Regions from separate parts of the Homo sapiens genome. Here region 2 is linked to region 1. The links come from fine-mapping of genetic effects on gene expression. A gene starts in region 1. The other region holds a variant in brackets. All regions are shown on one strand. Distances are between the middles of the regions. Region 1 holds the start of IL11RA (interleukin 11 receptor subunit alpha). Region 2 holds the start of ARID3C (AT-rich interaction domain 3C).

Region 1 (5,280 bases):
ATACCCAGTGCTTTGCATGTGCGTGCGCGCGCACACACACACACACACACACACGGACACACACACCCCCTCACACCCTCCATCTCAGTCCTGGGCTTAGGGCCCAGAACAAAAGCCGGAGGCAACAGACTGTGCCAGCAACTCCCCCTCCACTGCCCTTGGCGCCCACCCCTGGCACCAAGCACTGGCACCAGCTCAGCCACTCCCATTAACCCCTCCAGTCCAGCTGTTGGGAATTCTGGTATTTACCCCCACCTGGTCCAGGGCTTATCACTGCCTCTGATTAACCTAGGCAGACCTTATCACCCTGGGGGAAGGGTGTCATCATGGATCTGAGCCCATCCTGCACTCCCACCCTGAGGCCCACCCCTGCCCTGGCTGCCAGGCTTCTCGCCTGAACCTGGCTCCTTGGTCTGGCTACTTGGGCCACTCAGCTGGGCCTGGCTCTTGACACTTCGTTGGTCTCCAGTTTGTGAAGCTGGATGGGGCTAGGGTGCAGGCTGGGGCTGTGTAGTTAAGCAGATCCAGATGCCCTGGCTGCTGCCAGAGGCTGGGGGTGGGCGAGGAGCCAGCAGATGGAAATGGAGACAGGGTGGCGGGGAGGGGAGGGGAGGGAAGGGGATGAGAGGCTGAGAGGAACTGGGAGCCTGCAGGGACAGGCATGGGGGCCACAGCACCAAGAGATACTCAGAGATCAGGACTAGGAGGTGATGGGGCAGTGTGGGAAGTGTTGGAAAGACTGGATTGGGGTCAGCGGAAACTCAAAAAGCTAACAGTGTGTCTATATGGCAGGTGGGGGATGCTAGGAGAGAGAGATTCTGGACAAGGGGGAGCAGAAGGAGGAAGGCAGTGGTGAAGTGGATGGAGAACGAAGGGGCAGGCGGGGAAAGGGCTCTGGGAACAAGACCAGAAGAGGAAGAGCACGGACCCTTCAGGAGTAGGAGTAGAGCAGAGCAGGGCCTCCACCTGTCTGTGTGTCTGTCTGAGTGTGTCCAGTTGGCTCACCCCTGGCCACCCAGCCACACTTACCCTGCTTAGCCCCACCCTACCTCGGTGATCCCAGCAGCAGAGTGTCCATAGCCTCTAGGACTTCCTCTCACCAGCTACAGCCCCCGTCTCCTACTCCACTCAGTTCTGGGACCCCAGAGCCATCCCCTCCTTCCCCTTCCCTGCCCCGCCCCCTCTAAGCCCTGGAGCTCTGCCGCCCCTAGCCAGGCCCCCTCCCTGCTCCTGCCTCCTCCCTCCTTCCCTCCCACCCAAGGCCCTGGGAAGGGAAGAGGCCTCCCCCAAGTCTGGAAAGGAAGCCACAGACACAGCCAAGGCCAGCAAGAGGGAAAGGAGGGTGGCTAATACTTATGTCCCTGTCAGTGAGAGATGCCCTGTGTTTTCACACAGCCAGACACAGTCACATTCACACACAGACTCAAGAGGCACAGTTAACAAAAGGGCATGCCTTTGAACACACGTGGACACAATCAAATGAAAAATCAGATACAAACTCCCCCTCTTTTCACTCCTCACCAAATGTTTCCTTAGGGTACAGCTGGCTGTGCTTCCAGGGGAAGGGAGGCCCCAGGTTGGGGGATATAAGGAGAGGCCAAAGAGTCCAGTTCCCCCTCCCCTGGAAGTTCCAGCCATTTCTCACCTCCCCCTCCATTCTTTGGGCCCCAGCACCAGGAAATGCCTTTGGTCCCTTGGTGCCAGATACACAAGACCCACAGTTACCCTCAGACTCATACACTCTCACATGCGGTCACTCACAGTCACACGGGCACAGCCACACCGCCTCAGACTCAGACACACTTACACATATTCATACACTCACGCAGTCACACACGCACACAGCCCCTACCAGGGCTCACAGCACCGCCTAAAAGCAACTCTTCATCATGGTCTAAGCCCCCTCTCTCAGGGAGCTCTTAGCCGGGGCAGACCCGCATCTCATCACTGTTACAGGCCCCCAACTAGCCAGAGATCAAGATCAGCAGGGAAGGCAGGCATAGGGGCACAGAGAGAGACAGAGAGAAAGGAAAGGCAAAACTGGAAATGCACCCACACAGAGAGACCAGGGGAACAAAGCTGTGAAGAAACACACAGAGGTATCTCTAGTAAGACAGCAATAGGGACAGAAAACGGCACGTAAGGGAAACTGAGCCAAGCAGGGAAACAGAAAATAAGGAGCAGTAGACCTGATGCTGGGGATTCTTGAGCAGAGGAAGGAGGGGAAGCCACGTGTGTTGTGGGTGTGTCTGTCAATGCTGGACACTTAAGAGAAAGGTCAGTCCCATGGGCTCTTGAGGTAGGTCCCCCAATACATGAATACAGCTGTACTCCCACACGGTTTAAGTTAGGACCCAGGACACACACATAGTCACAAACCTCACTTTTGCTCTGCTACTGCTGAAGTCACACATTGGCACACACAAAGCCAGCCACCCACTCTCACGCTGGCAGACATGGTCTCAAACCCCACAGAGACCTTCCCAAAACACATTCCCTCATGTGGTCACAGTCCCTCTCACACAAACACACAACCCAGTCCCACCAAAAATGTGCATTGACAGATACACACATAATCCCACACTTGCACAGCCACATGCACCTCCAGCTCCATGCACACTGACACACGCAGTCACATTAGCTGACAGCTGCACCAAGTGACACTCAGAATCGCACACAATGATACTGTCACACAGACACAGCCTCACAGGCACATACACACTGACAGTCGTTAGTCACTCCCGGCCTTTCAGATCATACATCACCCTGCCCCGCCCACTCCTGACAAGACTTTGGCGTCTACACCAGGCCTCACCTTCCGCGGCCGCTGCCGCCAGCGCCCTCTGCCCTCGCCCTCGCCCTCTGCCCCGGCCTCTACTCCCTCCCGCCCTGGGCCCCCGCAGCGGGGGTGGCTCCGCCCAGGCGCCAATGGAAGGAGAGGAGTGAAATAGGGGGGCTCCTGGCCCATTGGAGACTCCAACTGCCAATCACCTCCACCCCCACCTCCGCCGGACACTTCCTGTCCCGTCCCGGACTGAAGAGGCTGCTTGGGACAGAGTCTGGAGCTGGATTCCTGGGTCTCCGCCTGAAGGCCTATCCACCCTGGAACAGCAGGACTGGAAACAAGAGCCACTGGCCAGGTGATTGGAGAAGCTGAAGGTGCCCCTGACTCCAGATAAGATAAAGAAGAAGGAGGGCTGTGTAGGGCAGTGGTTCTCAAACTTTGCTGGATATTGTGGTTTGAAAACTGCAAAACCCCACCCCATACCAATTAAATCAGAGTCTCTGGAGGTTGGACCTAGGCACCAGTATTGTTTAAAACTTCCCAGATGATTCCAAAATGCAGCCAAATCAGAGGTGTAAGGTGTGTCGGGTATATGTATGCCTCAAGAAACCAGCCACCCACTCAGGGTTCTCATCTACTCCCCAGTCATGGGAAGCTCGAGGGAAATGTGTGCATACTATGTCTATCAGATCTTCCAGACCAGGGCAACACTCCCAAGTTCCAGGTACTTCCCCTCCAGGATCTCAGGGAAGAAAAACCCTGGTCTGGAAGGCAGGCAGCCAAGTTTCTCCTGGGCCAGATTCAGTCACTGTCCAGCCTTAGTGTGATTTCCCCACCCACAGGCTTGGTTCCCCTGGGGAAAGAACGAAGGCAAAAACCATTCTGGCCATCCCTGCATCATTCACAATGCCTGCCTTCGCCTTAAAATTTGGAGGACACCAGTGGCATCAGGTCTCCTGTGTTGCATAGACTGTTGTTCCCACAGCGTTGCCAGGGAAACAGGTCCAGAGGGGACTGAATAGACCCCAGGTCACTCTGAGAGCCATACCTTCCTTCCAGGCCCTAGGGTTCCTAACTCTAGCAGTCCCTTCTCTGTCAGAGCTGTTTCTGTTTGTGCAATGATTGGGGCACAAGGGCAGCAGAAGTATATGGTGCCCGCACATGTGAGAGTCTGGAGGAGCCAAGGACACAAAGCCACGTACACGCTCCCTACACACTCCCTACCCGCCCCTTTAGCCCCTGTGGGCTGGAGCAGAGCCAAGCTGCAGCCACTCACAAAGCCAGGGTTCTGGCCAGCAGCCCAGGATCTGGCCACTGACCACTGGGATCAGGATCCAGCTCACCCGCTCCCCATCAAACCCTCAGGCCCAGGCTTGGAGCTGACACCCTAGGGGTGGTGGCAAAGGGGGCTCTGGCCTTCCCAAAGCCTCAGCCACAACCAAGACACAAGATTTTAAAACAGTTTCCTAAACTGGGAATGCTGTCATTACACCAAGAGTAAGAGAATCTATAGGCTAGATATAATACTGAATATTAATTTTGTTCAGAAATTTGGGGTAGATTTTTGCATCAAGATTTTACACATCTGTAGACAAAGAAAAGTTGTAGCTGGAGCTATGCCTTTAGCTTTTAACCCTAGATCTCTGAAGGTTCACACTCCTCTGATATTAGAGTATGTGATAAAAGTTTGAGATGCACAGTTTTATTAATGCTATATCTGCCCAAATTCCAGGCCAGGATTCAAGGCCCTTTCTGCTTAATTCAGCAAGACTGTTGAAAACAAAAAAGGATTCAAGGCCCTGTGGTCGGCGTGGTCAGGCGATGGTTGCTGTCTCCCTGTCCTTCTGCCCCAGGTGGTAATGAACCTCAGGAAGTGCCCTTAGTCTCTCTGCAGCCTGGAAAAGGGACAGGGAGCAATTAAGGAGGATAAGGGCTGGGCTGCCAAGAATGGTGGCATGGACTTCATTTTTTTTTTTTTTTTGAGACGAGGTCTTGCTCTGTTGCCCAGGCTGGAATGCAATGATGCCATGATGATGGCTCACTGCAGCCTCAAACTCCTGGGCCCAAGTGATCCTATCTCAGCCTCCCAAGTATCTGGGACCACAAGTATATGCCACCATACCTGGCTAACTTTTTAAATTTTTTTTGTAGAGACGAGGGCTTCCTATGTTTCCCAGGCTAGTCTCGAACTTCTGGGCTCAAGCAATCCTCCCATCTTGACCTCCCAAAGTGCTGGGATTAAGGCATGAGCCACCACACCCGGCCGATGGTATGGAGTTCTGGGTGCTCAGGAGACATTTTGCTGGATATTGTGGTTTGAAATATGAATATGAAATATGAATGCCACAGGCCCACTGGGGGTGGGCCTGTGGGATTGTGAGGCTGGTGATAAGGACTGCTGAAGCCACCAGGGGATGAAAGAGTTTAGCAGCTCCTGAGTCCCAAGGAATGCCCAGGTTGTTATGGGAAACTATCAGGGTCATGACTGTTGGGTT
Region 2 (5,419 bases), 22 kb after region 1:
CCGTGTCAGGCATAGTAGGCCCTGGCTGGCTCCTCTCCACTCACCCCAGGTTGCAAATCCATGCCTCCTGGGGGATTCCTACTCTGTAACCCAGCTCTGCCTCTAGGCTCAGAGCCCACATGTCAGGGATGACCCAGCTTGCCCTGTCATTCCTCCCAAACGTCCACAAAGGACTAGGCTCCCAGGCCCCTCCTAATCTCTGCTGCTAAATCCGTTGGTCGTTTCATAGTTCTTAGCTTTCATTTGACACAGGGTAATCACTCTGAAGGCACTCTTAGTTTCTGGGACACTACTCCTCCTTAATTGCCTCCTTTACTGGAATTTTTTTTTTTTTTTTTTTTAGTAGAGACAAGAGTTTCACCACGTTGGCCAGGCTGGCCTCAAACTCCTGACCTCAAGTAATCCGCCCATGTTGGCCTTACAAAGTGCTGGGATTACAGGTGTGAGCCACTGCACCCAGCTACTGGATTCCTATCTCCTCATTCTCTGACTTTCTTGGGCTTAGTCCTCAAACCTCTTCTGTTTACACCCCTTCCCAGGTGATTCTGTGACTTTACCATCTATATATCTTGACTTCTAAATTTTTGTCTCAGCCTAAATCTCTGCCCTGAGCACCAGAGTTGGAAATCTTACTGCCTTCATCTCTACTCAACATCTCCACTTGGCTGTCTAATAGGTATCTCAGACTTGAGATATCCAAAGCAAACCGAATTCTCTCCCAGCCCCACACCACCACCATCCTGTAGTCTTTACTGTGAATTAAGGGCACCTCCATTTACCCAGCTGCCCAGAGTCATTTTGGACACATCTGTTTCTCTCATGTCCCACATCCAATCCATCATCAAATACTGTTTTTATCTGCAGAATATATCCAGACTCTAATCATGCCTTCTCACCTCCACTGCCCCCACCCTGGTCTAAGACACCATCATCTCTTGCCTATAGACTATTGCAATGGCCCCCTAACTGATCTTCACGCATGCATCTTGTGTGGAGGGTTCTCCACGCAGCAGCCAGTCAGACTTTCACTCTCTGCTGAGACCTAACCAGTGGCTTTCCATCTCATTCTGTCCTTTCACTCCTTACAAGGGCCTACTCCAAGGCCCATGTTTCCTCTGATCAGACATTCCAACCACTCACCCCTTCAGCCCCCCTATTCCAACCCAGTGGCCTCCTTGCTTTTCTTCCAACACATCAAGCAAAATTCTATCCCAGGATATTTGTACCTGCTATTCTGACCGTAGTGCTCGTCCCTAGGTATCCACGTAGTCATAGCTCTCTTCCTCCCCTCCTTCAATTCCTGCTCACTGAGTTCTTCAACACTTATATAATAGTATCTCTTGCATGGTGATTTGAAATACCTTCACAAAATTTTTGATGCTCTGTCCTTCAAGAGGTGAAGCCTAAATTCCTTCCCCTTGAGTGGACTAGACTTAATTATGTACTTTCACAAATAATGTGGCATAAATAACAGTGTGTGACTTCTAGGACTAGGCCATAAAAAGCATTGCTGTCTAAAGAGTCTCTCTTGGATCATTCTGGGGGAAACCAACTGCCATGTTGAGAGGACATACAAGCAATCCTATGGAGAGGCCCATATTGCGGGGGGAACAGGCCCCCTGCCAAGGGCCATGCAAGTGAGCCATTTTGGAAGTAGATCCTCCAGTTCCAGTCAAGCCTTCAGATGACTGCATCCCTGGCCAACCTTTTTACTACAACACCTTAGAGGACAATGAGTCAGAACCATCCAGACCCACAGAATTGTGAGAAAATAAATGTTTTTGTTTTAAGCTGCTAAATTATGGGGTGATTTGTTACACAGCAATAGGTAACTAATGCCCCCTTTTATGTTCCCCCCAACCCAGCTACATTTTTCTCCATGGTACTTACCACTATCTGACACACTGTATATTTCCCCCACTTAGAATTGTACCATTATAATAAGGACTTTGTCTTATTTGCTCCTGTGTCCAACAGTGCCTGGCAAAAAAAATAGATAATAAATATGTGTTGGATGAATGAAGCATGGGTCTCTGAAGGTCTAGGTCTGTCTCCGTCTCTGTGAGGTATAAGACCAGACTGCGGGTATGAGAGGCAGCCTTTCCTTTTCACAGATGAAGAGAGATAAACCAAGTCCCAGTCAAGCATATTCCTTCCCCTCAGCCCTTCCCAGTTGTAGCCCTCCTGGCCCAGACCCCAAAAGTGGATTAACTTTGCTTGATTGATTTGGGAGCTGGGGGAGTGACTGCCCAGCCCCTTACCATTCAACCCAAACCCTACAAAGCGATCTCCAAACACTCAGAACTGGAATTTCCCCAAGCCAATTCCTACCTTTCTAGGAAGACTCTGGCCACCTACCTTTGTCCATGGACCTCCTCTGAGCAGCCAGGGGAAGCTGTGGTGGGGAAAAGGGAGCAAGCAGGGCACAAGGGTTCTGTGGATTGCTACCCTCTGCTCTCCAGTCTTCCAGTAGACTTCCAGGGCATGTCTGTCTGCCTGGCACATTCACTGATTCTCCCCTCCCAGCATCAGGGAGGGTTGGGCAGAGGAGGAGGCTTGGCTCTGCCCCAGGATACTCACACCAAACAAAGCCATGGGGGAGGAGGCATCAGTACC[G/A]ACAGTGATTGGATCACTGGAGCTTCTGGAGGCTGGGGGGTTCTGATGGGCTCAGAGGTCTGAAATCTGAGGTGGAGGACACTGGGGCAGCCAAAGGAATGAATGGGGTGAGCCTCAGCGTGGCCAGGAATGGGCCATAGAGAACCAGGACTTAGTGCTGCAGTAGAAGCTGGGCACAGAAGGGTGCAGAGAAGGGTGGCGGCTGGAGGCAGGGAGAGCAGGGAGGAGGCACCCACCATGGTCAGACCCACCATGGTCAGAAGAGCCGGTGGTTTGAGCCAGAGCAAGCTGAGGCTGAGAGGAGTGGACTGATTGGGAGAGGACAAGGGAGGAGGGAGGAGACAAAGGTCGTGTTTGGATTCCTGCCTTCTGGGGGTGTGAGGTCAGAAGACAGTCTCTGGTGCCACAGTTTCATACCTATGCCAAGTGTCACCCCTACAGACACCTGCTGTTCACTTACACACTTGGCATCACCTCACAGTGTCCCTCTGTTTGGTAAGTGGTCCCCTTGGGCACAGGAAGAAATAGGAAGTATGAGGATTCCCGGGAGGAGTGGGGTCCAGGCTGTTCAGAGCAGAAATTCTGAGAGGCCTGCCACTCAGAACCCCCAAATAAGGAACAGCATTTCAGCGTCTTGGGAATAGTTAGGGGGAGGGCGCAAAGCAGTGGGCTGAGGGGGTCTGGAGATACAGATGTGGCAGTCAGGCACACATAGGTGGAGAATGTGTGTGAACATGGGCGAAGTGCCGGTCACTGTTGAAACAAACCTATGATGAGTACCAGAGGTTCATTATACTATTCACTTGTCTATGTTTCAAAATTTTCATAATACAGGCTGGGTACGGTAGCTCATGCCTGTAATCCCAGCACTGTGGGTGGCCAGGGTGGGTGGATCACTTGAGGTCAGGAGTTCGAGACCAGCCTAGCCAAAATGGTGAAACCCCATCTCTACTAAAAAGACAAAAATTAGCCGGGTCTGGTGGTGGACGCCTGTAATCCCAGCTAATTCCAGCTATTCGGGAGGCTGAGGCAGTAGAATCACTTGAACCTGGGAGGCGGAGGCTGCAGTGAGCCCAGATCGCGCCACTGCACTCCAGCCTGGGTGACAGAGACTCTGTCTCCAAAAAAGAAAAAAAAGAAAAGAAAGAAAAAGAAAAGAAAAGAAAATTTCCATAATAGAATGTCAAAAGAGACAAAAACTGTGTGTGGCTGTGTATCTGCATGCGGTGAGTGTGCAGTCAGCTTAAAGACCTCTGAGAGTGTGTGAGTGCATAGGTGTGGGTCCACCACCATGTGCACTCATGTGTGCAAACCGCAGCATGCCCGCAGTGGGGGACAGCACGTAGGCAGGGCAGGGGTGCTCAAGGCAAAGGGAGAAGCTTCTATTCTGACCAGACCCTCCACGCACACCCCAGCATCTTGCAGAGGGATTCCCCTCTTGATCACAGCGTGCCCAGGCCATTGGCACTGTGGTGACCATGTCACGGAACGTGTGAGACTGGGAAGCTATGCGCCTGAACTTGTGACAAGGTGTGTTGGTGTGTGGATGCGGCTATTTGTATGTGGAAGCCCAGTGCCGAGTGTGGGTGTCGGGGGCACGACTTGTGAGGCTGGGCGGGGCTCTGGTCCGGAGTCCGGTGGCGGTAGAGCCCTCATTTTCGCACGATTCCCCCGCAGCTTTCCAGCGCCCCCTGCCCCCGAAGCTGGCTGGAAAGAAGGTGGGAGACACCTGTTGGGGAGCTGAGAGCGGCAGATCCCACAGGGGCCTCTCCCCATGCGCCCCGCCCGCCCTGCCCCGCTCGGGTCCCGCCCCCGCGGCCGCCGCAAGCAGCGCGGCGAGTGAGCGCACAGCCGCCAGAGGAGCACAGGGCGGCGGGAGCGCACCGCCGGGACCCAGCCGAGGCCAGGGCCGCCTGGGAGGCGGGCGGAGCAAAGGCAGCGCCGTGGAGACGCCAGGGGCAGCGGGCCACGCCAGGCAGGTGAGTGCGGCCGCGGGGCGCCCGGAGCGAGGGAGCCGGGCGTCGCGACTCTGCCGCCTCCTGCCCGTCCGGTCCCGTGCCCGTCCCAGGCTCTGCCCCACCGCCCTCCATCCCCGCGACTCCTTGGTCCCTGTCCTCTGCCCCTCTCTCCGGCTGTTTTTCCCGTCCCTGTCTCTGTCGGTCCCTCTCTATTTAACTGTCTCTTTCTAATCTCTCTCTTCTGTCCGTTTCCTGCTGTCTTGGTCTTTCCCTATATCTCAACCCCTGTCTATTTGTCTATCTCCGCCTCTGTCTCTCCGTCTCTGTCCGTCTCTGAGCTACCTGTCACTTAGGTCTTTTATCTGTTGCTCCTCTACCTCTCTTACCCTCCCTGTCTCTCTACCCAATATTCTATCTCTCTCCATCTCTGTCTGTCTACCCTGTCTCTGCCTGATACCTCTGCCTCTCTCCATCTTGGTCCCTCTCAGTCTCTGTGTCACCCCACTTCTGTCTCTCCTTGTCACCCTGTTCCATCTCTATTTTCACATCTCCCTGTCATTGTCTCTGTCGGACATCCCCCTTCTCCTTTTCTTTCTCTCTCCCTTCCTTCACCATTTCCCGATGTCTCTTGGTCCCCGTCACCCTCTCTGATCTGCTCACTCTTCCAGTCCTCAGTCAATGGCCATTTGATTCCCCGGGTCTGGTCCTGTTTCTGTTCACCTCTGGGAAAGCCATCTTTCTGCCTCTTTCCTTGTGACCCCTGCACTTCCCTGAATCCATGACCACCTCCCCCTGTGTTGGGGGGCTCTGGGGGCAGTAGGGCCCAGCACCCATAATTCCCTCCC

Evidence for each region. PIP is the estimated chance that this variant, and not a neighbour inherited with it, causes the effect. A credible set is the group of variants that fine-mapping cannot tell apart.
Region 2: its variant is the best candidate, but not a certain one, in a credible set for the expression of IL11RA in whole blood (TOPMed, PIP 0.77).

Annotation. Positions count from the first base shown.
Region 1 is chr9:34,649,769-34,655,048 of GRCh38, reverse strand. IL11RA (interleukin 11 receptor subunit alpha) reads right to left here and starts at 2,864. Exons shown (of 13, transcript NM_001142784.3): 1 at 2,816-2,864. GALT (galactose-1-phosphate uridylyltransferase) reads right to left here. Exons shown (of 11, transcript NM_000155.4): 11 at 4,014-4,680. The coding sequence ends at 4,600. RefSeq lists an enhancer at 1-227 and a silencer at 2,809-2,908.
Region 2 is chr9:34,628,093-34,633,511 of GRCh38, reverse strand. It overlaps ARID3C (AT-rich interaction domain 3C), which reads left to right and starts at 4,446. Exons shown (of 8, transcript NM_001017363.4): 1 at 4,446-4,595. RefSeq lists silencers at 4,328-4,487, 4,538-4,637. The variant G/A (reference allele first, on the strand shown) is at 2,617.